Regions from separate parts of the Homo sapiens genome. Here all the other regions are linked to region 2. Evidence: fine-mapped expression QTL. A gene starts in region 2. Each other region holds a variant in brackets. All regions are shown on one strand. Distances are between the middles of the regions.

Region 1 (8,234 bases), 200 kb after region 2:
ACTTGTGTGTGTTCTGACTGCTCCACTGACTGGCTCATCTCTCTTCCTTTCCTTGGGCTTCCCTATTCTGAGACAAAAAAATACTGAAATTAGGCCAGTTAAGAACCCTACAATAAGTGTTCAAGTGGAAGGAAGACTCGCACATCTCTCACTTTAAATAAAAAACTAGAAATAATTGAGCTTAGTGAGGAAGGCATGTCAAAAGCCAAGACAGGCTGAAAGCTAGGTCTCTTGAGCCAAACCAAGTTGTGAATGCAAAGGAAAAGTTCTTGAAGGAAGTTAAAAGTGCTACTCCAGTGAATACACCAGTAGGAAAGCAAAACAGCCTAACTGCTGATATGGAGAAGGTTTTCACGTGTGAAAAGAAGATCAAACCAGTCACAACATTACCTTAAGGCAAAGCCTAATCCCAAAAAAGGCCCCAACTCTCTTCAAGTCTATGAGGCTAAGAAAGGTAATGAAGCTGCAGAAGAAAATCTGGAAGCTAGCAGAGGTTGGATCATGAGATTTAAGGAAAGAAGCAGTCTCCCAACATAAAAGTGCAAGGTCTGATGGCAAGTGCTGATGGAGAAGCTGCAGCAAGTTATCCAGAAGATGTAGCTACGATCATTTATGAAGGTGGTTATACTAAACAACAGATTTTCCATGTAGATAAAACAGTCTTTCTTCTACTGGAAGAAGATGCCATCTAGGACTTTCATAGCAAGGGAGGAGAAGTTAATGCCTGGCTTCAAAGCTTCAAAGGACAGACTGGCTCTCTTAGGGGCTAATGTAGCTGATGATATTAACTTGAAGCCAATGCTCATTTACCATTCCAAAGATCCCAGGGTCCTTAAGAATTACATGCTAAATCTACTCTGCCTGCACTCTAGAAATGGAACAACAAAGCCTGGATGACAGCACCAGCTGTTTACAACATAGATGACTGAATATTTGAAGCCCACTGTTGAGATCTACTGCTTCAAAGAGAAGATTCCTTTCAAAAGATTACTGCTCATTGACAATGCACCTGATCACCTTAGAGCTCTGATGGAGATGTGCGATGAGATTAGTGTTGTTTTCATGCCTGCTAACACAATATCCATTCTGCAGCCCTTGGATGAAAGAGTGATTTTGTTTTTGCAGAAATGCAGTCTCACTATGCTGTCCAGGTTGATCTCAAACTCCTGGGCTCAAATGATCCTCCCACCTTGGCTTCCCAAAGCTGGGATTACAGGCATGAGCCACCGTGCCCTTTCCTCAGAAGTAACTCTGAATTTCAAGTCTTTTTTTTTTTTTTTTTTTTTTAAAGAAATGGGGAATTGCTACATTGCCGACGCTGATCTTGAACTCCTGGTCTCAGGCCTCATGAGTAGCTGGGATTACAGGCATAAGCTACCATGCCAGGCTAACTTTCAAGTCGTAAAAGCTGCCATGTAGAGAGATACTACTTAAAAGCTGCCATGTAGAGATACTACTTAAAAGAGATACTACTTAAAAGCTGCCATGTAGAGAGCTGCCTTATAGTTGCCATGTAGAGAGATACTTCTGTTGAATCTGGGCAAAGTAAGTTGAAAACCTTCTGGAAAGGATTCACTGTTCTAGATGCCATTAAGAACATTTGTGACTCATGGGAGGGGTAAAAATACCAACATCAATAGGAGTTGGGAAGAAGCTGATTCTAACCCTTATGGACGATTTTCAGGAGTCCAAGACATCAGGGGAGGAAGTAACTGCAGATGTGGTAAAAGTAACAAGAGACTTAGAAGTAAAGTGTGAAGATGACACTGAATTGCTGTAACCTCATGATCAAACTTTAACATATGAGTAGCTGCTTCTTATAGACAAGTGAAAACAGTGGTTTCTTGAAATGCAATCTACTACTGGTTAAGATGCTGTGAACACTGGTGGAAAGAAAATAAGAGATTTAGAATATTCCATAAATTTAGTTTATAAAATTGCAGCAAAGTTTGAGACGACAGACTCCAATTTTGAAAGACATATTACTGTAGGTAAATACTATCAAACAGCATTACATGCTACAGAGAAATCTTTCGTGAATGGAAGAGACAATCAAGGCAAAAAAGTTTACTGCTGTCTTATTTTAAGAAATTACCACAGCTACTCCAGCTTTCAGCAATCACCACCCTGATCAGTCAGCAGCCATCAACACTCAGGTAAGACACTCTACAGCAAAAAGATTACAACTCATTGAAAGCTCAGATGGTTACTAGTATTTTTCAGCAATAAAGTATTTTTAAATTAATGTGTGTACATTGTTTTTTAGACATAAGGGGGTTATAGGTTAATAGACTATGGTACAGTATAAACATAACTTTAATGCACTGAGAAATCAAAAAAATGGTGTGACTCACTATATTGCAATATTTACTTCACTGCTGTGGTATGGAACTGAACCCACAATATCCCTAAGGTACTCCGAATATACATTCTACTTAATCTTCAAGTAATCTTGGCTCATTTGTCCAAATTAATTAGACCACACAAAACCTTTCTCAATACAGCTCCAGATTCTCTCTCACTCCCTTCTCCTTCCTCTGCTCCCATATATCATATCCCATTCCCTAAATCTATTTTTAGAGTCTATTTCCTCTGCATGTCTTTTACCTGCTCCATTCACAGGGGAGTCTCCCTCAGGCTTAAAGATCCAATTCAAATGTTACCTCTCTGTTTACAGATCATTTACTTCCTACTTTTGTTACTTTGGTGCTCCAACACCTGTCATTTGGGCTATTGCAAGAGTTCTTAAATGGTCTCCCTCTAGCTCATGTTGCCCATATTCTAATGCACCCTTCAGGCTGCCAGCAAAGTCCTATTACAAAACAGAAATCTGATGATGCTACTCCTCTGCTTAAAGTCCTTCACTAGCACGCTAGCGCCAAGAGGAACAAGACAACAAAAAGTCCTTTACATGGAGAATAAGGCCTTCTGTAATTTAGATCCAACCCAATGCTCTAATCTTACCTCCTGTTATTCCCCCTCCACTCTAGCCTGCCATGCTGAACAAGTGCTCAGATGTCCTCCCTTTCCTCTGCTGCTGCACATGCCATTCTCTTAGTCTGGGATGCTCTTCCTAAAGGTTCCCTTGTCAAGTTCTCATCCAACCATAACCACTTAACATTCATAAAATGAAACACTTTTCACTAAGCTAAACATAATCCCCCTACCCCTAGAAGCTCTCACTGTAATGGAAGAAACACAATTTTAAAGAATTATAATACTAAAACTGTGACAAATAGATGTATTCACAAGGTAAGAAAATAACACAGTAGAAGTAACTAACTTAGATGGTCATAATATATTTCCTGGGAAAGGTGACTCTGGAACTATTTTGAAGAACAATTATATCTTTTATAAACAATAAGAAAAAACATGCAAGAGAGGAAGAAGCCATACTAAAACACAAAAGCACAAGACAGTATTATATAATAAATAGTTCTGCATTGTTGGAAAGTGAGGTGAGACAGAAAAGTGGCAGGAAATGAAGCTTAGAGTCCAGCAGATCCAAATCATGAAGGTATTATCATACCTTCAAAGCAGCTTTGGTTTTATTCTCTAAGAGAGGGAAAAAATAGACTTTCATTCAAGAAAGGTTACTCTAGTTAAGCATGGGAAAAGACTGAAGAATGAACAAAACCAAAGAAAAAGGTAAGCCAATTGAAAGATTATACTAGTTGAGGAAATAAATAATCATGATTTGATTTGCAAGAATAGTGGTGGGAGATCGAGAAAAGAGTACAGATTGCAGGGATATTAGGAAGTATAATCAACAAGTCTTAGTGACAGATTAGATTCGAGAATCTAATCCTTTGAGGGGAAAATCTAAGCTAACTCCCAGGATTTTAGCTTATAAATTTAGTAGCATGCTGGGGTTACTACCATAAATAAGAAATACAAAAATAACAGGCTTCTCTATTTGTCTTTTGTTTTGG[G/A]TAGGAGAACTAAGGGGCTGATGTTGGAAAAGGGCTGAGGAACAGAACGCTGGCAATGCTAAGATGCACGCAGGAAGAAAGAAAAAACAGCCCACAAGACTGAGACGGCATAGTCAAAAAGGTAGGAGAGAAACAGGATAGACTGGTGTCATGAAACAGTTGTAGACAAGTATACTAGGAATACAGTTCCATGAAAGCATTCTCATCAATGGCTGTATTAAGTAGAAAGCAAGTCTAGCTGCTGAGAGAAGGACTGGGAGACTTCCACTTCGAAGCCCTCTGACTACTCCTTCTCATTTCTCAAGTACTTCAAAATAAGTACCTTGGCAGTACTTACTCTGTACGACACTCTTTTATAAACATTTACACAGTACTATTTTTAAAAATTGCTCATGTTTAGAATGCAATCTTGAATACAAGGACCAATGCCTTCATGGTGCTTGGCAATAGTCCCAAGTACCAAATATGTGTTTACTGGGTGACCAGCAGAATTTCAATATGCATATTTGTTTACACACACTAGACCAAGAGCCTCTCAGAAGGAAGGGCTTTTCCATGTATCTAGTTTCCCCAGGATCTTGCATAATATCTGGAAAGATGAGACTTTAATAAATATTGACTGAACAATTAGAATTAATGCAGTAGTGACAGCTATTTCCTGAGGCAATTTGGTAAGATTTTGTAATTTTAAAATAGAATATGTGTACATTTTTGTTGAACTGTTTTTCATATTAACACTGGAGAAAAAAGACACCTGAACATTCACTAAAAGGCACTGCTTAAGTATCAGGAAGAAATGCTTTACAGAAGTAGCAAACCAAGTAAGCACACAGGGGAATTTTTAAGTTTATAATAGTTAGATTCATGGAGACGGCAAACAATTTCATTTTTCCTTATGGCATCTCTTTGAAAAAAAGAGATGGGCAACAAGAGAAAGGAAGGCAGCATGGTGACATTCACAAAGGAAATAGTCCAGGAGCAGGCAGGTATCACAAAGCTTAGTGGGAAAACTGACTTCACAAGATTAGGATCCGGTACACTAGCCAGGCTGGAAGAGAGGTGATCACCTCATCAACATATAAAAATGAAATCAATAACAAGAATAGTACATTTGTAAGCCAGCTGGAAAAAATGTAAGACCTATAAAGGAGTACTGATAGCTATTAGAAGTTTCATATTTTAAATGTTTTGAGTTGTCACATGATTAGAAAATATAATGGGGGGATGTCATGAGCTAAACAGTGCAAAATTGCACAGATGATACCCATCAACAGCACTTATAATATGGTGACAAATTAATTTATATGACAAGAGTGGTTGGGCATTACAGGAATCTAGTTGGGCTAGACTGCAATGAACAAGGGGGGCTGAATAGGAGCCTCGTGAATTAGATCCATGAGAACTATCCTCCATTTTACTCATTATAAGGTGATAAACCCACGGCAGGGGTGGCACTATACTGGCAGAGAGATATTCAATAACATTTCTCCTTAAGCTATGACACTTACAAATCTATCCCTTGTTCTATTATTTCTTTTTGTTGCTTTAGGACCTCAAATTGTTCTGGATTATCAGTGCCAGACATCTGTGTACTGTAGCTGCCTATTCCTGATGATGATGTTGACTCCAGGGAATTTAAACTTCCGTATCTGTTTATTGTCTCAGGGTGTTTGATTTCACTCATCTCTTGCTCTGAGGGTTTTTCCTGACCTGAAAGAAGAAAAATTGATAGAGTACATTATTCTATCAAAGAAAAAAAAAAGTGTAAGGGCAAACAAATTCTTGAATAAGGCAAGGCGTTTCAATGTTGCTTAGATATCTATTTAATACAAAATAACTATTAGGTAACATAGTAAACAACATACTTTGATATTAAAACACACTGTAATTTGTACGTGTATAGTCTGCACCATTAGGAGGAGTTCTTTTTGCAGTTGCAGTGCTGAGTATCCACTGGATTTCTGCTCTCAGCTCACTCCTCATGAGGAATTGTTTTCGATAATACCAGTGTAGCCCTGCAGCTATGAGTTTTTCTCTGAGTGAGGGTAAACATCAAACACAGATGAACAATTCAACCTTCTTAAAACATACTGCCTTTTATATGTTTCCTCTATAATTATAATACAAGAAAGTTGCATAAATATGCTTCATTTTACATAATCAAAATATTTCTAAGAAGATTTAGAAAAAAATAGTTTGGATAACTAAGTTAAAAATCTCACAATTTTAAAGCTAGACATTTAACTCACAGAGAATGTTTCCTCATCAGTTAAATGAATAAATATGTCATGAAATTGGTTTAACAGCAGCTGCAACTATCCTCCAAAGTATTATTCACTTAAAATGACAAAGAATTACAGCTCAAAATATCACCTTACCAAGAGTTGTCTGGGAGTTGGGATTCACATACTGATCCTTACTCCATTCAACCATACACTTCAAAATCGACACTAAGCATTCTAAACCTTTTTTCCTCAGGCTCAATTCCTACAAAGTAATTCAAAAACAAAATTTTTTTTAAAGGTCTTTTAAGGAAAACACATGACTCTTTCCTGGTAAAGTTTAAATTTGAAAATGTTTTTATAGTTCTTACCTGAACATTACTCATACCAAGTTCTTGACTGCCCCTTCCTTGAGCAATTTTTGATAGATCATTTACTAGTCTTTCAAATATATTGGCTGCATTTAAGTCACAGTCATAGTTTACATAAATATCCACTACACTCTGAGCATCTGTAACAATATAACATTAATTTCAACAAAGTACATCTAGGATATGAGTACATTTGGCCTTTTAAATATCTAATAATAAGAAAGAGATAATAAAAAGGATAATTTAAAATACCTGCACAAATCCTCGTCAGTGTCTGAATAACCATCCATTTGTGATCAAATGAGCTGGTAGAAGTTTCCAAAATGTATAAGAAAATTTCTTTAAAGAACACCTGTGATTAGGAGAAAACTTCTGTTTAAAATATTGTTTAGAATTCATATGTGTGATCACTTTTTAAACATCCCAGAGCTATAGAGCAGGTATTAGGACCCAGGCTCTTATGGAGTTCAACTCCTTTTGAGTTCCATCTCTGAATCCTCAGGACTAAAATATCTTGGGTAAGTGACTTAAACTTGCCCTTCTAGTTATCAGTACTGCAATTCACATTGATGTGTTTTGTTCTCAACACAGCTGCTACAAAAGAAATATGCAAAGATTTAGAGTTCCTCTAGGTGATAATTTCTTTAACATTTTTACAGAATATAACTTACGCTTTTTTAATCCCCCTCCAAAAGCGTAATTTATACTTCTGTTCATCAGTTATATTTTTCAGAGACGTTCTAGTACTGAGAGGCCTAACTGTTCGTAGATTTAAATGTAACTGATACTCTAATCAACACAATAAAAACAATCTAAGTCTCATACGGTTTTATTTTTCTAATTACTCACAAAAGTGAAAATCTCTACTGTTTGAAAACTACATATGAACTATTTCTCACTACTCTTTACACCAAATAATCAAGCAGTGAGTTAATCAACCTAATGAGATAAATTTCAATTTAACAGATAAGAATTTTCAGATTTAAATGTATTCTATAAAAGTGACTTTAAGAAGGAATGACTGAAACAACCAACATATTAACATTTATGAAACATATGCATTATGAACCCAGAAAATCACATTTATAGTATCTCCCCCTAACTGGATTAGGTACCCCTGTAATGTGATTTTCTTTCACAAAACTCAGCATATTTCTATTTACTTGTTTAATATCAGTATCTCCTATAGACTGTAAGCTTGAAGACAGTAATGACCAGGTCTTTCTTGATAAAGATCACGTCCATATTGCAGGGCACATAGTAGGTGTTCAATAAATACTTATGGCAACATGGCCACAATTCCCAAAAACTGCATCAAAGTACCCCAGAATGCTGTAGCAAACTCATGAGGGTGCCCTGAAAAAATTCTGAGGCAAAATTCAGAGGGAGATACATCTGTTGGATACCTCAAAAGATTGCTCATGGTTTCAAATAAATCACACTACATTCCCTTCAATGACATAATTATCTCCGCAAAGCTGGGTTTTGGTAGTTGCTATGATAAAAAACCAAGTACTGAATGAAAATCAATGAAGTACAGGAATGAGGGGGACAGTATTCAATTCCAAGATCTAAGAAGCTGTGTGCAGTTTCTAATAGGCACACGCATCCCAGTGGTAAGTAATTGCGGTAAAGAATAAAATAAAAACATTATTTTTCTTTTACTTTATGCATACTATTGTCTTTGAAATACATAGTAGGCTGTGAAG
Region 2 (8,000 bases):
TCTTATTTCTCAGTATACTTGCTTCAGCAAATCTTCATAAAGAACTTAATTAAACTGGTTTTAAAATTCTTACCACCACTGCTACAAATGGTTCCTGGAACTGCTGATTGAGCATCTGAGTACTAACATCAATCCCAGAAAGCCAGCAGCCATAGCCAGGGTGGCTATGATACCACCCGATTGCATTTTCAAGGCGGCCAACCTAACAAATGAAGGGGCAAAAAAGTTTAAGATTACTCTTTAATTAATTTACAAGGTACCAGTACAATAAGGGTAACCAGTCTCCTTCCCATCTCCTTCTCCTCAATTACCCACTTTTCTCAGCCCAGATGCGAAATCTATGGGCAATTGCTTACCCTTACAGAGATATTCTTTGTATACAGAATACATATTCTTTGCACATACATAGATTGATAAAAACACACACAATAGCATACCACATAACATAATAATGTTTTACACTTTGTTTTTTCACTCAATAAACTGCTTTGGAGTTTGCTTCATATAAATCATCAATATATATGATGGTTATCTTTTTATTTTTTTTTCTTTTAAAGGCTGCCTGGCAGTCCACTGATGGATATACCATAATTTATTTAGCCAGTTTTATACTCAGGAACTGAGTTAGGTTGTTTCCAAATTTTTTATTTTAAACACGTATCTGATAATAAGTGTGAGAGTTTATTTAAAAAAAAAATAAAATCCATGCCATAGACCGGGTGCAGTGGCTCATGCCTGTAATCCCAGCACTTTGGGAGGCTGAGGTGGTGGATCACCTGAGGACAGGAGTTTGGGACCAGCCAGGCCAACACAGAGAAAACCCGTCTCTACTAAAAATAGAAAAATTATCCAGGCCTACTGGTGCACGCCTGTAGTCCCAGCTACTCAGGAGGCTGAGGAGGGAGAATTGCTTCAGCCCAGGAGATGGAGGTTGCAGTGAGCTGAGATCACGCCACTGCACTCCAGCCTGGGCAACAGAGTGAGTCCCTGTCTCGAAAAAAAAAAAACAACAACAACAAAAAACAAAAAAAACCATGCTATAAGTCTTATCAGGCTTTTAATCTCGTACATTTTACATATAAATCATTAAAATTTAAATATAAAATTTCATGTAAAGGGGATAATTTTAAGTTTAGAAACTCAAAAGTCACCTTGAGACTCTAACTTGCAATTACTAAACTATAAGAAACAACATTTTTACCTGTTTTGCATTTTCTATGTATGCAGCCATGTATTCATATGCAGCAGCCTGAGCATTTACTCGGGTTTCAGTGCCCTCCACAGGCAAAGCAAAACTGTCCATAATGATCATGGTTTCACCATCCACCTTTCCTAGCATCAGACCCATCACTTCCAAGTTGCCTCCCGATCTGGCATGCATCACCATCTTCAGCAGAGCCAATGCTGAGATTTTGCAGTACTTAAAGTAATGGTGACTGCAAAACAAAATCACAATGTAATTAAATTCCTTATATAAAGTAAAATTTCAGAAAAGTTTTTATGAAGATAAAGAGTAAGTATTGAAGGAATTTAGAGCGATGGAAAGGGAGTGTAGACTACGGGGAGAAAAAGTAAAAAAGGACAGTTTTTGCAGGCTGGAAACAATAAGTATGTCATAGTGCAGCAACGTATCCCCCTTAGGGGAGGGGAAAAGTCTGAAATACTTTTTTAATATGCTATTCAAATAAGGGAGTAACATGACCAGTTCAACAGACTTTTTCTCCATTAATTTGGAATCACCCAATCTTGGATTCTGACTGCTTGGATGGTTGTGCCTAACTGTTCTGAGGCCTAACCTTCTGGCCTAATGGTTAAGAATGTGGGTTCTGACATTCATCTGCTAAGGTCTGAATCTTGACATTGCCATTCCCTAGCTGTGGTATTGGGACAACCCTGTAATATCTGTGCCTAGGTTTCCTTTTCTGTAAATAGGGATATTCATAATTGTTGTTAGGATGAAATAAATGAAATAATGTATATAAAGTGCTTAGTGCCTTACACATACTAGAACCCTAATAAGTGCTAGCTGTTATCAGCATTATTAACCTGTCTCTTAACCCTACTCTCAAAGAACAGAGTGTTGAAGGGTGGGCTTCCCTGTTATATCAGCCTTAAATTAAAAAGTAGCCCTAATATCCTAGTCTCCTATGATCACTATTTCAGAGTTGGTCATCAGTGAATTAAACTCTTGAATAAAATTACATTTTGGTCTCATTAATGCAGCCCAAGACAGCTAGGATGAATATAATTAGAGCCACAATTAGACAGTGAGGCAGGCCAACAGTTTCCAAATATTTAAGAGTACACGAACCTAAAATGCACAGCCTGTTACAGAAGCAAGCAGATAACCAAGCAACTTAAGCAGCCTTACAGAGCAGTCAGTCAACGTCTCTACAAAGCCTTTTTAGATGTCTGCCCACAGAAAGAATCCAAATTTAATTCCTAAGCTTTGCCAGATTTCAACCAAAAGCTGAAAAATGTGTAGACCTCATGTTGGAAGTCAAGACATGAATCGAAATCTTGGCTTCTCCCTTTACTGGAGAAAAGAAGAAAGACAAGTTACTGTGCTCCTATTACATACATTCTAGACGACTCTTTTTATACATTATCTCACCTAATCTCTATGACAATACCAATAAGTAGGTCTTATTTCCATATTATGACAAATGAAGATGGATAAGTAAATTTCCTAAGGTCAATCAACTAGTTAGTGACAGCTGTGAGATTTGATCTTAGGTCTGACTATTGCTCAGTTGAGAGTTCACTTATGTCAGTATGATCATAAATTACATAACGTATTTGCTTGTTTTTTAATTTGTAACAAAAGGATGGATATACTGTACTGGGTTGTCATGAAAATTAAATGACGTGGAAATCTCTAGCTAGGTGCTTCCGCAGTTCACCATTGTGGAATCTGAATACTGAGAGACAAGGCTAGCCTTGTAAAAAAAACTGTGAGGCAGTAGAAGTATGTCCTCTTGTTGACCACAGCTTTCCTTTCTATCTAACCATTAGCTTTCGTGCTCTTTTTACTCTCAAACATAACCCGTAATAATTATCTTTTCCTGATAGCAGGAAATCTCTCAGGAGATGCTCTCAGGAAAAGATAAATATTATGGGTAAAGATCCCTCGACTTGTCACCACTCCCAGGGAAAAATGGATATTGTTGAAGGGCAAAAGGTCTTAAGCTCTATTTTTATAATTTCTGGCTTATGGGAACTGGTGGAGTAACATTTTAGAGACCAGGTAGTAGAGCCTCCGTGTGCCTCCGAAATAATTACCAGCAATCAAAAAACTATTATAGGCCCAGGCCTCACGCCTGTAATCCCAGCACTTTGGAAGGCGAAGGCGGGAGGATCGCTTGAAGGCAGAAGCTCGAGATCAGCCTGAGCAACACAGCGAGGACCCATTTCTATTAAAAAAAAAAGAAAAGAAAATAGCTCATAGCTATTTTTGAGACCTTGGGCTGCTGACTCGATTTCTGAAAACAGCTGCAATCCCCAGTTTGGGATTAGTTGAAGACCCAAACAAGGTGCATGTCGACACTGGGCTCAAGGTAGGGTGTGTGGCATATATGACAATACGGATGTTCAGAAGTGACAACTTAAATCACCGCTTGTTGTTCTCCCCTTACATCACCCGGGGGCAAATGGATTAAAGCGACAGAAAGGGGAGTGAAAGCCCCAGCGGAGGGCTTAGGCTCTACTTGCAGATCCAAGACGCATATTCTGTCCCCCTCCCAGTCGGTGAAAGCTCTTCACCCCTTTCACCTCCCTCTCCCTCTGGGTCTCTTAAACTCCGCCACCCTTTCCCTCCCCTGCGTCTCGCCAGGGACCTCCTCACTCCTTAGTCCAGGGCTTCGCCGCCAGGATTTCTTGCTGCTGTTTCTTGTCGTATTTGTAGATTTCATCGATACTCTGAGCTTCCTGCATGTTGTTGGCCAGTTCCCAGGTTTTCTGGGCCATACCGCTCCCGGACGCCGCCATCGCCGAGGAAGCGGAGAAGTTGTCGTCTCTACAACCAAGACGCAACTTTACCTCGCTAGGTTTCCGGGTGTGGGCCTTGACCCTCCGCACCACGGGAACAAACTCTTACCTAGACTCTTGGGGCAGCCATGACACCTAGAACCGGAGGTGAAGTTGGTAGAGACCATTCAGGGAAGACAGGGACCTTTCCGGGACATGACGATATAAACAGCAGTTACAGTAATAGCGAGAGACGAATCTTCTTGTTGCTTAAATGAGAACATCTTGTCTCGGAAAATTATATGTGTGAAATAGAACAAACAAAGTTATAGGGTATGGGAGTGGTATAGTCTTCCGCACCGGAAGAAGGGCATGTAACGTTATTCCAGAAACTGGTATTTGCCTTCTCTGCTTCTAATGCGCAGGCTCGGCCTCCGCCATATTAAAGGTAGCTGGAGCCTTAAGAGCGGGATGTGGAGGGCGGAAAGTGTTTTTGTGTGGGTATAGGTACCTTAAATGAGATAAGTTTGTTGAAAGACTAAAAGGTAAGGCTGTCTGTTGTACAACTGAGCTAAAAGTCGTTCTGGAAGCTGGTTGAGAGGAAGATAAACATGGCATTCCCGTTTACTTCAAGATGACTCACTGTACATGCGTAAAAGCTAACGGGCTCGTGGTGGCTTGGCACTTCACTTGCAGATGGGCTTTTTCTATCGATGCGAGGAGGCAGTGGGTACTCCTTGATTGCTTTTTTGCGCTTTGGTAAAAGTTAACATCTACGTATATATAATGTGCCATTACTGATCTGAAAATGTCCAGTACTCAGTTCTCGTAACAGGTTACAGTTAAATCTTTGGCACTCCTGTGAACCGCATTTGTTCCCAAAGCGTAATTAATCTGGGTAACTGGTTTGTTTTCTTCCTACAGTTAATACAATGTTTAATTTTTTTATTAGTTCACGTGTTTTAGGTTTTCTTTTTTCTCCATCTCATTCTTCCATCCGTGCAAGATTTTAAGTTTCAAGACACAGGGAGCAGGTCTGCGTTCCTTGTTTTATCTCCTAGCACCTAGCATAGGTGTTCAAGATTTTTTTTTCTTTTATTTCCTGAAAAGATAGCATGACAGGCCAGGCGCGGTGGCTCACGCCTGTAATCCCAGCACTTTGGGCAGCCGAGGCGGGCTGATCACTTGAGGTCGGGAGTTCAAGACCAGCCTGGCCAACATGGTGAAACCCCGTCTCTACTAAAAAAATACAAAAAAAAATTAGCCGGGCGTGATGATGTGCGCCTGTAGTCCCGGCTACTCATGAGGCTGAGGCAGGAGAATCGTTTGAACCCAGGAGGCGGAAGTTGCAGTGATCCGAGATTGCGCCACTCCAGCCTGTTAGACAGAGCCAGTCTCAAAAAAAAAAAAAAAAAAAAAAAGAAAGAAAGAAAGAAAAAAGAAGAAAAAAGAAAAGATAGCACCACAGCTGTTAACAACCTGGCCCCTATGCACCTCTTCCAGCTTCATCTCTTTTTAGTCCCCCCTTGAAACTTTTCATTCTAGCAATGCAGATATCTTTACTTTGGCTTTGCATATGTGGTCAGCATTGCTTGAAACGCTCTTTCGTAAATTTTCTGCCTGGGAACTCCTATTAATCTTTAAAAATGCAGTCCAGTGAGATCGACCACGAACTCTTTCTTGACGCTCCAATTACCATTCCTTCCATTATGTCTGTAAGTCTCCGTAGGTGCTTCTATAACTGTTACAATGCGTTGTAATAATCAGTTAAGACAAAAACATTAGAATTATTGAATCCACACCACAGCTTGCTGTTTTGGCACTGACTTTCCGTTGAAGAAAATTTCCTTTAAAACCATCTTACAAAGAAATTTAGGGTAAAATAGTACATTAATACCTACCCTTAGTTCCACTCTCCTGGGAAACTAGAGGTCTCTTTTCTAGTGGTAGCATATGGCCATATGCGATTGTATTGGGGTGAACTGAATAATATGTTGAAAATGGTAATGAAAGCCCAGGACCCAACGTTGACCACACTCCTGGGCTAGGAGTAATGCCCTGAGAGGTATGCCAACACTTTTCCTCTCACTACCACCCCTCCCCATTTTTCTTTCCAGGCTCTTACACTGTTCCTAAGCTGGCTGGTGCATGGGAGGCTGGAGAGGCTGCAATAGATTTAGCCTGAGAAGTGGCCCCCACAGTTTAATAGCCCCTGGGCACAGCAGGAGAACGAGTTGACCAAGTCCCCGGCCAGCGTACTGGCGAACCGAGAGCAGCGGGCAGCTATGCGGCCTCCAGGACAGCAGGGGGCGATGTCTTGCCGCGCGGCCGCCTGCAGTGGGGGCGGGGCCGTACCCGGCGGTTGGCGAAGGGCGAGCGGAGGGCTGGGCCTGAGGGGCGGAGCCCCGGCCCGGAGGTCTGTCATGCTGTTCCCGCTCCAGGTGGCCGCTGTAACCTCTTCGGTCCGCGACGATCCTCTAGAGCACTGTGTGTCTCCCCGGACGCGAGCCCGCTCCCCTGAGTAAGAGTCAGCCAGCCGCGGATGGGGAGCGTGAGTGGCGAGGTGTGGCCTGGGGTGGTGTAGGTTGAGGGTGGAGGGTCCTGGGGCTGCATTCGCTGCCCCGGAGCGGGGGCAGGGGCAGTGGCTCCCTCGGGGCGTAGGTCTCGAGGCAACTAGGCCGGCGACGTGCCAGAGTTACAGGCTCTGGAATCTGGGGGTGGGGGTGGGGTTTCTTGTCGGCAGGGGGTCTCGTGGCGGCTGGGTGCGGTGGGGGAGGTGCCCGAGTTAAGGGTGTGGAGAGTTGGGATTTCGCCGCCGTGAGGCCGGCATCGGTGACTACGAGTTATGAGGGTTGGGGGCGGGAGTTCTGTGAGCAGGGGTCTTGCAGCTGCCGGGGTCGGGGAGGTTCCCTGGTTACACGGTCCGGATTCCTGGGCCACTGCGGTCGCTGCTGCCCGCGGTGTTGTTGATAGCTGGTTGCCTGACGACGCTTCCTAGTCAGCCACCTCCAGGGCCCGGGGGCGAGCGGTTCCTTGGTTCCCATGCGCCTTCTCTCCCCAACGGCCAGGCCCCCCCTGCTCCGTCAAGCCTCCCCGAGCGCCTTTCTTGCCCCTCGGTGCTTGTTATTGTTAACGTGGGAGCGCTTGTGCGCACTGCTTTGCTAGTAAAACTTATTTAATCTTCACCGTAGCTCGTAGCTCGTACTGTTGTGACCGTATTTCCCCCCGTGATTGCCCGACTGCTTGAGCTTGAACCTCTTGTTTCTAACTGCCTTGATTTTAGGAATCTTATGTGGGACTCAAATCCAGTTGTCAGTACATGTTATTAATGGGACTCATCTTTTGAGAGAGGCTAGCTCTCAAGATTGTAGGATTAAGACGCTTAACTAGGATTGCGGGGAAGACTAAATTCTGAAGTAAACCATCACCTACTTTCCAAACACCTTGGAAAATGCAGGGGCTTAAAAGCAACCGATAGGAATTTATAAAAAGCCTAAATTAGGCTTTATTCTGTGTGAAGGAATGACTTGTAATGTTGACAAGCTCCATGGAAGCTATTGAGGTATTTTCTTTTCTCCATATCATTCTTCTCCCTAGGAGGTCGCTAGCTTTCTGGTGATTAAATGTCTGCTGAAATGCTCCACAAGGATCAAGTTTTTTTGTTTGTTTGTTTTGTTTTGTTTTTGGAGACAGGGTCTCGCTCTGTTGTACAGGCTGGAGTGCAGTGGCATTAGTAGAGAAGGGGGTTTCACCTTGTTGGCCAGGCTGGTCTCGAACTCCTGACCTCAAGTGATCCGTTTGCCTCGGCTTCCCAAAGTGCTGGAATTACGGCCCTGAGCCATTGTGCCCGTTCAAGTTTGGGTCTTCTGCCAGATGGCCGCCTGGGAGGGAGTGGGTGAGTTTAGACAGAGTAAATTGAAACAGGCTACTTTCGGTACAGTTTTTCTCAGATGAAGCTTTCAGACAAATATGAATTAACTGTTACACATTTGAGCAGATTTCAGATTATCCTTTTAACATCATTCTGACTTAGG
Region 3 (8,280 bases), 710 kb after region 2:
GTCTCTCCCTCCCTCTGTCCTTCTTTTTTCTTTTCTTTTCTTTTATGTGGGTTACAACTACTGATATTGACTCTATTGGAAATTGAAACTAAGAACTTTTGAAAATGCTTACTTACAGATTTCTTCAAAGGTAGCAATGATAAAAGCATTCTATGCTAATAACTTCGCCTCTTCTCTTCTCTTTTCTGACGGGGTCTTGCTCTGTTGCCCAGGCTGGGGTACAGTGGCACCATCTCAGCTTACTGCAATCTCCACCTCCCAGGCTCAAGTGATCCTCCCGCCTCAGCCTCCCAAATAGCTGGGACTACAAGTGTGCACCACTACACTAGGCTAATTTTTGTATTTTGGTATTTTTTTTTTTTTAAGAAACAGGATTTCACCGTGTTGCCCAGTCTGGTCTCCAACTCCTGGGCTCATGTGATCCGCCTACCTTGGCCTCCCAAAGTGTTGGGATTACAAGCATGTAATCCTAACACCACCACTCCTGGACCCTGCCCCAGACTTTTTCGTGTTAAGTGGCCTACTTATTCATTTTCTCCCTTGTTTGGGAAGCCTCTTCTTTGCCTGTTTCTTTCATTTCTTCTCTCTCATGTTCCCAACGAATAATTTTTAAGTATTTTATCTACCCCTTCTCCCTGATCTGGAACGCTCCTCATCCTCTCTCCTCCTTTTTCCAGGCCTTTTCCTTTGCAAATGCCACCCTAATTCCTAATCTTTGACCTTCTCCACTAACCTTGAAATCCTCTACCCCTACTTTCATCTGACTTCCCTCTCAGTTGTGTCCACATTTCCTTCAGTGTGAACTCCTTATTCTGTCATAAGCAAACTCTTGTTTGTCCAGACTGCTTTTCTAACTCCATTTTTTACCTGCTTGCTAGAGCAGAAAATTTGCTCCCAAAATTTTACTGAACTGTGTCTATTTTGCTCTGCCAACTTGGGATTCCAAAACTGAAGATCAATCCAGTGCCTTTCTAAGTGCTTTAAGTGCTTTTCTGAATTAAAGGAAAGCATCAAATATCCAACCAGAATTCAACACAAAAGTTAACAGCTGTTGTATAAATAATCTCAGAGAGCCTCTTGTTATCTGAGGGAAGCCTTCTTTATTGAATTGTATTTGAAACACACAACTTGGCATTAATCTCACAGCTGCAAGATTTCTCGGAGGGAGAAAATATAGTCTGGATAGGGTTACATAAGCTACAGATGAAATAAAACCTATCTGTGAGCTGAATTCTTCAGCTGATCTGAAGTGATGGTAGGAATCATTTTCAAAACTGCTTGGAAGCATCGGTACGTATTACCACAGGGACTGCAGGTGACTTCACTGGCTTTTTCTTTTTTCTTTTATACAGTGTGCATTTTGGCCTTGCCCACCTTTTGGAGAGACAAGTCTCACTCTTACAGACACTTTCTTTGCTTCTTTCCAACAGATGCTGAGCACAAATAATACCTACTTAATTTTGGTAGAAAGAGGAAAGAATTCAATGCACCAAGTGGGTCAAAGTCTGCAATTACACTAGCGGGGGTAACTCTTGGATAATGAGCACTCAGTTCACAATTATGTTGTACATGTAATTTGTCAGTTGCACACTGGTTTCCACCCTCCCCCTGAATTCTGTCTCTTCCTGCAAGCTTCCTCAACTGAGTTTATTTGGAAAATGCTTTCTATATGCTGGGCATTGCCCTAAATTAATGGATCCCGAAGTTTGCTGCACATTGAATTCACTTGAAGAGTTTTTTGAACTCTTAATCAGTACCTAGGGATGGAGCTAAGTATCATTATGTTGTAAAGATTCTCAGATGATCCCCAAATACAGCAAAGTTTGGAAACCATTGTTCTAAGTGATTTATCCATACTAACTCACTGAATGCTAGCTACACTGTGAGGTATTACTATTACTATACTTACTCAGTTGATAAATATTTATTATCTTCAATATATTGGGCATGTGCTAGGTATTGGAGATACTCCAATGAATAAGCCAGATAAATAGCTCTGTACTAATGAGCCTCCCATCATATTAGATTTTACGGATGGGATCACTGACACTAGAAATATTAGGAGACTTCCTAAAGATCTCACTGATAGTAAGTGCTAGGGCTGGGATTTGTAGGCAGGTGACCTCAGAATCCACCCTCCTAGCCTCCACACCTCCCTGCCTCTCTTCTGCAGTCCCACAGTGTCCTGGCATAAGGTCACTCTTCAGTCCTGACTTCACGGGACTCTCCTTGGAACTGGACACTATTGGCCACTCCTTTCCTTTTCTATATGTTCTGCTGCAGGACCCATGACATCATTCTCTCCCTGTTTTCTTCTATCTCTCTGGTTGTTCCTTCTCATTATCCTTTTCTGCTGCCTGACTTCTGATAATGGCTCTCCAGAAGTTCTGCCTCAGCCCTCTTTCCTTCTCACTCTTTATAATCTTACCTCCTTGCCCACTTAACTTCCAAGTTAACTCCTAGGCATTCGTTTGATCTCAGCCCAAATGCTGCCTCCTCTGAGAGACTTTTCCTAATTTCCCGAAACTAGATCTAGTTCTCCTTTCCTGTATTCCCACAAGGCTTGTTACTTTTTCTTAAAGCATTTCTCAGAGTCTGTAATGATAAATTTGCATGTCTGTCCCCTCCAACAGCTCCACCAGTCTGTAGCACAGGTGCCTTGTCCGTTTTTGTTTTTATTTTTGCATCTCCATCAATTAGCACCATATATGCCACCTTGTAGGAGCTTAGTAAATATGTCTTTTCTTTTCTTTTCTTTTTTTTTTTTTTGGAGATGGAGTTTTGTTCTTGTTGCCCAGGCTGGAGGGCAATGGCTCGATCTTGGCTCACTGCAACCTCCACCTCCTGGGTTCAAGCGATTCTCCTGCCTCAGCCTCCTAAGTAGCTGGGACCATAGGCACGTGCCACCATGCCCAGCTAATTTTCATATTTTTAGTAGAGATGGGGTTTCACCATGTTGGCCAAGCTGGTCTCAAACTCCTGACCTCAGGTGATCCACCCACCTCAGCCTCCCAAAGTGCTGGGATTACAGGTGTGAGCCACCATGCCCAGCCTAGTAAATATGTCTTAAGAGAATGAGCATTGCACATTCTATCATGGATTCAAGCATTGCCTGTATTAGTGTTTCTCAAAGTATGTTGCACGGATGTCTGGACCAGGTTAACTTGGGATATTCACTACAAATGCAGAATCCTAGGCTCCACCTCAGATCTACTGAATCAGAGTCTCTGAAAATGATCGCATTTTCACACAGAGTCACAGAAATATTATTTCTTAAAAATGTTTCCCACGGATGCAATCATCCACTATTTATCCATATATTTAGTAGTCATCTTTGAACCCACATCCTCCACTGTCCTCACATCAAACTGGGTTTTCTGGTCTAATCAACTCTACTTCCTATACATTTACCTACTGTTTTTCTTCTCATCCTTGAACCATCTCCATGCAGCTAGCTCTCACATGGCTTCCTTTCTTTCAGTCTCTTCCCTGAGATCCTCCTATACTACTTCTCTGCATGGCTCAACATACCTTCAGAGTGATTTTTTTCCAAAGTGCAAATATAGTCATGTCATTTCTTTGCCTAAAATGCTC[C/T]AGTAATTTTCCCAAACCATGTTTTTTTTGTTGTTGTTGTTTGTTTTTTCAGACAGAGTCTTGCTGTGTCACCAGGCTGGAGTGCAGTGGCATGATCTGGGTTCACTGCAACCTCCTCTTCCCAGGTTCAAGCAATTCTCCTGCCTCAGCCTCCCGAGTAGCTGGGACTACAGGCATGCACCACCACACTCAGCTAATTTTTGCACTTTTGGGAGAGACGGGGTTTCACCATGTTGGCCAGGATGGTCTCAGTCTCCTGACCTTGTGATCTACTCGCCTCAGCCTCCCAAAGTGCTGGGATTATAGGCGTGAGCCACCGCGCCCGGCCCAAACCATGGTTCTCTAACAAAGAGAATGGTAGCAGCAAGGGAGAGAGCATTTCAGGTGGGAGTGGTCGACTACATTTTTCCTCACTGAGAATCCAAATAAGATAAACCCTGCAAATAGCCCATTGGTTTCAGTAGACTGAAAGTAATGGAACCCAGCTTATGGATTATGTAAAGCCCTGTATAGCATGTAGATTGTGTTGCTTGTAGCTGGTTTGACCCCAGCTGAAGCAGTGGCAAAGCTGTCTTGGCTTTTACTGCTCAGAGTTATCAGACTATTCCAGGTCACAGAGATTGGTCAATCCAGTTCTCAGTGCTCACCCCATGTGTTGGAGAGGATAACTCATCATCCTTAGTATACTTTTTCACTTGTCTTCCAAGAAACTGCTCTTGCACAGTCACTTTCTTTTAGTCCCTATTTATAGCTCCCCATCTTCTCCCTGTCCTCTGAACATGGACATGCTCCAGAACTCAGTTCTTAATCATCTCTTATTTATTTTTACATGTATCCCCTTGATGATCTCATCCAGTCTCATAGCTGAAAATACCACTGATACGCTGACAATTCCCATGTTCCCATATTTATATTTCTAGCTCATGATTTTTTCCTAAACGCCAGATTCCTAAATCCAACTTCCTATTTGATAGCTCTACTTTGATGTTGGATAGTAATGATAACATTAACATATCCCAAACAGAATGCACAGCTCTATCCTAACATCTGCCTCCAAACCTACTCTTTCTACAGAAGTTTCCATTTGAGTTGGTGGCAATTCCATGATTCTAATTGCTCAGATCAAAAAGAAATCATTCTTGATCACTCTTTCTCTGAGCACACTGAATCTGTCAAAATATGCTTTTGGCTCTACTCTTCAAGGTATCTCCAAACCCAATGATTTCTGACCACTTCCACTGATTCCACCCTGGTGCGAGTTGCCTTGGTTTCTCACCTAGATCATGGCAGGTGCCTTCTTACTGTTTTTCCTACATATATCATGGCTCTCTGTAGACCCCTCTCAATGCATTGGCTAGAGTGGTCCTTTAAAGATGCAAGTTCAATTGTGTCATTTCTCTGCATGTCTTTCCACTTAACTCATGATAAAACCCAAGATTCTTACAGTGACCTTCAGGGCCCATGTGATTTAGTTCCTCGTCACTTCTCTGACCTCATCTGTAACACTTACACCCTGATCACTCTGTACCAGTATGATTGGCTGAATAATGTCTCCCAATGATGTTCATGTCCAAATCCCTGGGACCTGTGAATGTGACCTTACATAACAAAAGGAACTTTGCCGATTATATATTAGTCCATTCCCATTTACTGCTGTAAAGAAATAACTAAGATTGGGTAATTTATAAAGAAAAGAGGTTTAATTGGCTAGAGTTACAAAGGCTATACAGGAAGCATGATGCTGACATCTGCTTGACTTCTGGGGAGGCTTCAGGCAACTTATAATCATGGCAGAAGGTGAAAGGGAAGCAGGTACATCTTACATGGCTGGAATAGGAGCAAGAGCGAGAAGGAGGAGATGCCACACACTTTTAAACAACCAGATCTCAGGAGAACTCACTATTGTGATGACAGCACCATGGGGGATGGTGTTAAACCATAAGAAACTGTCCTCATGATCCAATCACCTTCCATCAGGCCCCATCTCCAACATTGGGGATTACAATTTGACATGAGATTTGGGCAGGGACACAGATCCAACCCATATCAGATGGGATTAAGTTAAATATTTTGAATAGGGAGGTCACCCTGAATTATTTGCATGGGCATCTTACTAAGTTTTGGCTGCTATAATCCAATCCTGTAGACTGGGTGGCTTAAAAAACAGAAATTAATATTTTACAGTTCTGATGGCTGGGGAGTCCAAGATCAAGGTACCAGCAGATTTGGTGTTTGATGAAGACACTATTCCTGGTGTGTAGACAGCTGTTTTCTTGTTCTGTCCTCACATGGCAGAAAAGTAAAGATTACCTCTCTTGTTTCTTTTTATAAGGGCACTAATCCCATTCAAGAGGTCTCTACCCTAATGACCTAATTGTCTTCAAAGGTTCCACCTTTAAATACCATAACATCAAGGGATTTAAGCTTCAACATATGGATTCTGGGGGGATACAAACATTTAGTTTATAATAGTGGGCCTGAAGTAATCATAGGGTTCCTTGTAAGAGGGATGCAGGAGGATCAGATTGTGTAGAAAGAGATGTGACCACGGAAGCAAGAGATTGTAAAGTGACTTGGGAAAGTTACTAACTTGGCAAACCTCAGTTTTATCATCTACAACATGCAAGTGTAATACCCACATCACAGGGTCATTATGAAATAAAATGCCTTGTATATTTGTGTTTTGAATCAATACATAAAAGTTTCTATTTAAATTTCATAAATTTCCTCTTATTTATTTTGGCCCCAATTTTTTCTTCAGTCTGGGGAAAGAAAAGGCAAAATCTACTAAAATCTTTATTCTAATATTCAATGGATATTTATGTACCTTTTTAGGTATTCATTTAGGTCATTGACAACATTATAAGAAATAACAAGACCAAATACAAAACCCTAGAGACCCCCTTCCAGGTGGATTCTTATCCATATTTAACATTATTCAACCATCTACAAATCCAGTTAAAATGAGCCTGCAAATATGGCCTTGATTCATATAGTATATTTATCCTTGGATCATGTAGAAAAGCTTTTAAACTGCTTTGCTAAAATCCTATATGGTATCTATGACAATTCCTTAAACTGATGGTTACTTGGGCAATTCCTTTCCTTAGTGAACCCACTTGGAACCTATGGAACCTCTTGACCACCTCTTTCTTTCCTAAATATTGGCAACCTATAAACCATTTTAGAATTTTTCTAGATATAGATATGAAGTTTATTCTGTGGTATTTTCTATGGCTTATCTTTTGAAGAGAGAGGCATTTTACCCCAAGTCTTAATATATTTTCATTTCTCTGATTTCTCCTGGGGAATCTATTTGGGTCCCTGATTGCACCTGCACATTCCCTTTGTATCCTGAGATATAATATGTCTTGGTCTGAAAGTTTGATACCATCTACTGTGACCAAGTACTTTATTTTCCTCTGTATCTTGGGATTCAGTTCCTGCTTAACAATGTTAGTCCTTTCTACACAGTTTGAAGATCATTTCAAAAGTTAACATTGCCAGATAGTTTTGTACTCTCAATTGTTTTAAGGCGTCAGTTTCTATACCAAATTGGAAGTATTGTTTGGCAATATGATTAACAGATTGAATTTCACTTAGACAAATTTTGTTTTCCCTGTAAATTATATTTTTATTCATTAGAGTTCATACATTTCTGATAGCAAGTAACATTTTTCTGCCTTGACTTTATTTAAAAAACACAGTGTAGAAATCTTCATTTCACTTAACTTTTGAATCATTCCTATGATAAGGGTGACTTGGGATTGTTAGTATGTTACACTGGAGTTAAATTAGTTCTTGTATTTTAAGATATTCATTTTCTTAGTAAGTGAAAATGTAAAATGTGTACCTGGCACAATTTCGCGAGGGAAAAACTCACTGAAATGTGTTAATGGCCCCTTTTCTCAGCTCCAGAAATAGCTGCTATGTGCTCTTTCATCTTGTGTGTGAAATACCAGACCTTCCCCTGAAGTCCTCTCCAAGGACATCAACTCTGTCTATTGAACTAATTTTATAACAAGACTACTTAATTTTTTACTAAACAAGGAAACTATAGGACAGAAAGAGAGAATTTCTCATTAATTAGTTCACTCCAAAATTAGTGTTAAGAAGCCATATTTGGCATATTTTATTTTATATTACCAGTAAATGGTAAGCATTTTTTTTTCTATTTTTGCTTTATGTAGAGATACTCAGCTATGTTAGAGTAACTAGGTAAGTGTCCTTCACTCTGTGGAAGAAAAATTTCTAGAAAACTAACTCTTAAAAAACACTGATTGACATGATCAATTTGAAAATGATACCACCGGGGTCTACATTTCTGAGTGTCTTGTCCTTCTGACTGGGAAGGGTAAAATGGGGGTATCTTGAGTAGTAATGGTTGTAGTAACAAATCCTGGGCATCTTCTCCTGTGTCAGGGACTGAACAAAGCACAGGGTGTCATCACATTCAGTCTTCCTGGCAGCACCGTAAAGCAGGTGTTATTTTTATAGCCATTTTGTAGAAAAAGAAGCATAGGATCCGAGAGGTTAACAGCATTGCCCAGCTCGACAGTTATCAACTGATAAAGTCTGAATTTTAAAATAAGTGTCTGACTTCAGATACTGCTCTTAAGTGTTATGTAATACATTTTTCTGACTTTTGCACCATCGAAGACATCCCTAGAATTTCATTTCTCCTGC

Which allele goes with the higher level. Positions count from the first base shown, and alleles are read on the strand shown. Sizes are in standard deviations (SD) of each study's normalised expression. Not every link is listed here.
For the expression in activated CD8 T cells of the gene that starts at base 4,124 in region 2, allele T in region 3 goes with a higher level than allele C (large effect, 0.82 SD a copy in Schmiedel 2018).

What was found. PIP is the estimated chance that this variant, and not a neighbour inherited with it, causes the effect.
Region 1: its variant is fine-mapped to the expression of COPS5 in whole blood (TOPMed, PIP above 0.99).
Region 3: its variant is fine-mapped to the expression of COPS5 in activated CD8 T cells (Schmiedel 2018, PIP 0.94).

Annotation. Positions count from the first base shown.
Region 1 is chr8:67,260,566-67,268,799 of GRCh38, forward strand. It overlaps ARFGEF1 (ARF guanine nucleotide exchange factor 1), which reads right to left. Exons shown (of 39, transcript NM_006421.5): 11 at 6,778-6,877; 12 at 6,526-6,665; 13 at 6,311-6,419; 14 at 5,441-5,642. Among named protein-coding and RNA genes, the nearest start is that of ARFGEF1, 79 kb to the right of the region's middle. The variant G/A (reference allele first, on the strand shown) is at 3,933.
Region 2 is chr8:67,058,010-67,066,009 of GRCh38, forward strand. It overlaps COPS5 (COP9 signalosome subunit 5), which reads right to left and starts at 4,124. Exons shown (of 8, transcript NM_006837.3): 1 at 3,845-4,124; 2 at 1,202-1,436; 3 at 74-202. The coding sequence starts at 3,987. CSPP1 (centrosome and spindle pole associated protein 1) reads left to right here and starts at 6,383. Exons shown (of 31, transcript NM_001382391.1): 1 at 6,383-6,529. RefSeq lists enhancers at 3,791-3,880, 4,061-4,330 and silencers at 6,261-6,400, 6,339-6,526.
Region 3 is chr8:67,763,419-67,771,698 of GRCh38, forward strand. No RefSeq gene overlaps it. Among named protein-coding and RNA genes, the nearest start is that of CPA6, 21 kb to the left of the region's middle. The variant C/T (reference allele first, on the strand shown) is at 3,595.